2 separate regions of the Homo sapiens genome follow, and region 1 is linked to region 2. Evidence: fine-mapped expression QTL. Tissue or cell type: whole blood. Region 2 holds a variant in brackets; the other region holds the start of a gene. All regions are shown on one strand. Distances are from middle to middle.

The links. PIP is the estimated chance that this variant, and not a neighbour inherited with it, causes the effect.
Region 1: it holds the start of LRRFIP1, and the variant in region 2 is fine-mapped to the expression of LRRFIP1 in whole blood (TOPMed, PIP 0.94).

Annotation. Positions count from the first base shown.
Region 1 is chr2:237,626,165-237,628,846 of GRCh38, forward strand. LRRFIP1 (LRR binding FLII interacting protein 1) reads left to right here and starts at 1,423. Exons shown (of 24, transcript NM_001137550.2): 1 at 1,423-1,576. The coding sequence starts at 1,481.
Region 2 is chr2:237,759,758-237,762,439 of GRCh38, forward strand. It overlaps LRRFIP1 (LRR binding FLII interacting protein 1), which reads left to right. Exons shown (of 24, transcript NM_001137550.2): 19 at 307-448. Among named protein-coding and RNA genes, the nearest start is that of RBM44, 38 kb to the right of the region's middle. RefSeq lists a silencer at 2,672-2,682. The variant T/C (reference allele first, on the strand shown) is at 1,331.

The sequences.
Region 1 (2,682 bases), 130 kb before region 2:
AATGTAAATATGGCCTGGAAGATTCAGTCAACACCTATTTCCTTAGTGCCTACAATGTGCAGGTGCAGTTTCTGCTCCCGGAGTTCAGTCATGAACAATGCCACAGTCAGCCCTGCCAACCCACCTGCGTCAGCTCAGGCACCCAGAGCAATGTCACCTGGATCTGCCCTCCCTCCCATGTCACTGGACTCGCTGTCTTTTCCCTGCAATGAAACCTCCAACAGCTTTCCCTGCCACTGTGGGTGGAAGGGCCCTCTTCCTCTTCCCACCTTCATACAGCTTCCAGGCCACCTCCTTAAGAATCCAAAGCAATCTGGTCACACCACTTGGTGGGAAATACACCGAAATGTTAACTGTCCTTATCACTGGGGGAAAAAAATCACAGGTGACTTCAGTACAGCCTCCTCTCCTCTACCATCACTACCCTCCCTCCCATCCTTCCCCAGGTCCAGCCACACTGAAGTTCTCCCCATACCCCAAACACACCAGTAACTTTCCCACCCGGTGCTCCTGCCGTGCCCTAGGCAGGGGCTTTTAACCCCTACCTAATCCTCCGATTTGCTTTACTTTTAAATCCACCTCTGGAGCATAGACTGTGAGCTTCAGAGAGCACAGGTAAGTTCATTACTTTTTCAACAACTAGGAGAGAGCTGCGACGCACCTGCCCCGATCCTAGAGGCTGGGGACCCACCAGAGAAGTGACAAGTCCTTGATCTCAGGGGGCAGACAGCGGGGAGAAGGATGGATGCTAGCACGGAGAACACGCGTGTAAAGACAGAAACGCACACATCCACACCATGCCGCTGTGAAGCCGGCGCCCAGGAGGCTGGCCAAGGTCACAGGAGCGGCGGTGGCGGGCGGATCCGAGCACCTCTCGGCCTGACCCCAGAGCCTAGCTCTCACCCCGGCGAGGGACTTCCACCCCGACTCACCGCGGAATGGGGAGCGCCAGGCTGAACCAAATCCTGTGCTCACCCCTCCGTGCAAACCCCTCAAGGCAACTCAGGCCTCTGAAAGCCTTCCTACCCCCCCGCTCTCCGCTCAGGTCCCCACTCAACCGGTGCCCACCGCCCTGGCGCGCGTCGCTCCGCGATTACCGGCCCGCCAAACAGTCCCCGCAAAGTCCACCCTCCGGGGCTCCCGGTCCCTCAGGTCCCGCGTGCCCGGCCCTGGGCATCCGCAGCGTCCCCGTGGTATCGGACCCCCATCGTCCCTGACACCTGGCGTCTCCGCCCCCCGCCCCCGTCCCCCGCCCCGCCGTCCCTGGCCCCTGCAGTCCCTGGCCCGCGCTGCGGACCTCCGGCTCTGGCTTCCCCCGGGTCCCCGCGGCCCCCGTCCCCCCGCGTCCCCGCGTCCCCGGCCCAGCGCCCGCTGACGCCATGACGCCGCGGCGGAGGGAGGGGCCGGGGCCGGGGCCGGGCCGGGGCGGCGCGAGCGGCTGGAGCAACGGGCCCCGCGGCAGCTGCGGGCGACGCGGTCGATGGACATGGGCACCCAGGGATCGGGGCGCAAGCGGCTCCCCAACCGGGAGCGGCTCACGGCGGAGGACGACGCGCTCAACCAGATCGCGCGGGAGGTGAGCGCTCCGGGAGGGCAGCCGGGGGGCGCCGGGCGGGCGCGGGGGCCGGACGGCTGTCAGGGTCTCTCCGGCGTCCGTCTGTCCCGCTGTGCGTCTGTGCCACTGCGCGTCCGGCTCCAGGCGGGTGGGCCGGGCAGGCGCGCGCCGGGGCGCTGATCCCCAGGCGCTGCGCCCCGGCCCCGATCTCCGAGGCCTGCGGACCCCGCACCCGTTCTCCAGCCCCGGGCCCAGCCCGCGACGCTGCGCGCCCTCCCCCACCCCGGCCACCGTCGGCCGCTGCGCCCTCGGGAGAGGAGCCGGGCGCCGCCAGCGCGCGAGGTGGCCCGGGCTGGCCGGGTGGGGGCGAGCGCCCCGCTTTGTTGTGCGGCATGGGAGGAGGCGGGGGCTTAGGCCCGACCTGGAGGCAGTGGACGGTCGCCGGAGGCCACATGGCCCTGCTGAAATGGCCGAGTCGCTCAGGTGACCATTTGTCATCCATCCATCGATGTCACTCAAGGTGCAGCTCAGAGATGAACTTGGGGATCACTGTGATTTTTCTTTCAGGACTGAGCCTGGAAACGGGTCCAGGCACACTGAAACGTCTTCATTAAAGTTTCCTGGACAGAGTTTATTGTAACTAAGATCATGTTTGGTGATGAACTTTACCTGTGACAAATTGAAGGCGCACTAGAATGGGTATTTGTACAAATGCCTTTTTTTTTTTCCTTCCGCAAGGATTCTACCTTAAGGCTAAAGAATGTACATGACATCCAGAAAGCCGTACAGGGACAGAGAGCAGCAGCTTGGGAAAAGGGGAGCCAATAGGTTGCGGCCCCAGGGGGACAAAGGAAGCTTAATTTTTGACTGTGTTCCCTTTGTACCATTTGAACTGTGTGCCAGGTGGGTGTATGAATGCAAAGAAAGTCTCTGCCTTGTAACCCGCCTTACAGGTTCTTTTCCGTGTTGGCTTTTCCACATGTGATTCTTCCCACAGGAAACACCTCCAAGCCATTTGGACTGTGGTGTCTGGCTGTATCCGTCAGATATTCTGGGGGATCTACTCTGTAACCAATCCTTAGGTGTTTGTAGTTGTAAATACCTGATTTTGCTCTTACGGACATGTG
Region 2 (2,682 bases):
CTTGGGGGCAGCCCACAGGCCACTACCTGTAGTTAAAAAGGATGCCTGGTGGAAGTAGCTTGTCACCAGCAAATGAAAGCATGGATTGGAACATCTGAGAAAGAAGTAGCCTTTGGAGGACGATATCCCAGATTTGTGTGTGTTGACCGAATATTTACGAGTGCTGCACCCTAGCATTTCTCTTGTCTCTGTGGAGTTACCCTGTACTTCAGGAAAAAATGGTTTTCTTTTTTATTATTGTATTAAAACAGAGTTTAACCTAATATCACTGAGTAAATATTACGATGAGCCTATTTTTGTTCCCAGAAACATGGAATAATCCTAAATTCAGAAATAGCTACCAATGGAGAGACTTCCGACACCCTCAATAATGTTGGATACCAAGGTCCTACCAAGATGACAAAAGAAGAGTTAAATGCCCTCAAGTCGACAGGGGATGGGACCCTAGGTAAGTATTTGCTTTCCTTCGGCTCCTCACACCTTTCCACTCAGCATTGGTTCACCCTCCATGCACTGCTGGGGTTGGAGCCACCGTCGCTGATGGGTTAACAGTCACCAGCATGCCATTTGTTTCATCACTTCATGGTAATTTCCTTGCCCACCCGGTGTGGTCACCCACGTGTTGTCTGGCATGCATCTCTGTGTAGTGCACCATCAATGGCTCAAGTGAACCTTTTCTTTTGCTGCTCAAAGCTACCAAGCAAGACTGTGAAGGCAAAAGGAAAACAGTCTCAAAATTAAGTAACAATGTGGAGAGTACTATTTGGTTTTCCTCAGACACATATATATCTGTACCTATAAAGTGTGGCTTTTTAAACCGATTCTATGACAGAATTATCAAAAGATCAGAATGGTTGAGGCCGTCAAGTCAGTTGGCCATATTTGCAAGCCAACATCGACATCCTGGGCAGCATTCAGCGCTTTGAGGGTACGGGGTGCCTGTGGACAGCAGGTCCGTCTGTGTTGCCTTTTTCAAGCCACCGCTCGAGGTGGGCAGGCGGCCGTGGTAGTGGGTGTGGCGGTGCTGAGAGTCTGAGTATGCCCACCTTTGTCAGAGGGGATCCTCCTTTGTATGCCACGTGTTTGCTTCTGAAAGAATATAAAACTGGGGAATCCAGTAGATCAGAGGAATATTTTATACCATTTTCAATGATCTGATTTGTCATAATTTGTCATAAGAGTTGGCTTTGGGAGAAACCTTCAGATTCTGGCGTGCAGCCTGAAGTTGCAGCGTGCAAGTGAGGCCTCATCTGTCACTGGTCACCCTCTGCGTTCCAGTGTTTTACAAAGAGGCTGGAATAAGGTCAGGGTCCGTGACTTTTCATTTTAA[T/C]GTAGAAGCTTTCATCTTATTTCTTTTTATTTATGGAAATGTAGACACCTCCAGGCCCCATCTTCTCAGGCCTCGCATTCCAGGGAGGTACCTCATTCATTATCTTTATGACTATTAAAGAAACACAGCTCTTTTCAATTGTGTAAAAAAAGTTGTGGCCTAGTGCAGTGGCTCACACTTCTAATCCCAGCGCTGCGGGTGGCCAAGGCTGGAGGATCACTTAAGACCAGGAATTCCAGGCCAGCCTGGCAACCTAGCAAGATTCCGTCTCTAGATAGGTATGTAGTATCTATATACCGTTGTTGAGAAAAGATAAATTAATCAATTTCCATCATACCTTTATATGAGCTACCCGAACAGCTAGGAATCTGATTACGCTGCTCTTACTCAAATACACATTTTATAAATCTTTGATAACCATTGTGAAATGTTGTAAGAACCAGAAATGTCAGTTTTGAAAGTGGCCTTCAAATGACTTTTGATCACATATTCCTTCAGCAAAGAATTGTAGGATCCAATATGTATGTTTATTTTAAATCTACATATGTATACTATTTCATTAATATAAAATGTACGTTATAAAATATATGCAAAGATATGCAAAGAAGTTTTAGAGTAAAACTCTAAATAGAATTCCTAATATTTCCCCCATTTTCCCTGGGATATGGGCACCCCACCATGGAGATCACTGGGCTATAAAATTATCTAGCTTTGACTTTCAGTAACATAGTACCATATCTAATCTGCTGGGGTTTTGTTTGGAGAGTCCAAAAATTCCAAAACAGTTTGATGTTCTTTAGACGATGAATAATTTATCATTTAATTTAGTGGTCATCTTGATCTTGAACATTTGCCTCCTGCTGGTCCTCTCTCCCTAGTCCCTTAGGGAATGGAGCAGAGGTATCAGGGCATGGACACAGGGTGTTTTCTCAGGAAAACAATAGTTGAGTGGCAGAAGATAGATTTCCTTTCATATGAGCTATTTCAAAAGCATCTTCCTTGAGACTGACCTTGAGGCTGCATTTCTAAAAGTGCACTGAATATTCTTTTTAAAAATTACTTGAAAGCTGCTTTTAGGGCTGTGTGACATGGAGTGCAGTTTGACAGCTGCAAAAGTACAAGTTGTCAAGTTGTTCATTGAGAAGTGAGAGTGGGGAATTGAACCTTCAGTCTGTTCCTAAACCCATCATTGTGGATTGTTTGGCTGCCTGATCCAGAGTTCTTTCTATTTGTTGAAACTTAACGTCACCTTTAAAAATCTGTCCACACAAGATGGCACCAGCAGCCACTCTGGCCTTTGATGTGGTGGCAGTGGCCCTCACTGACCCAAAATTTACTAATGCAACTGCTGC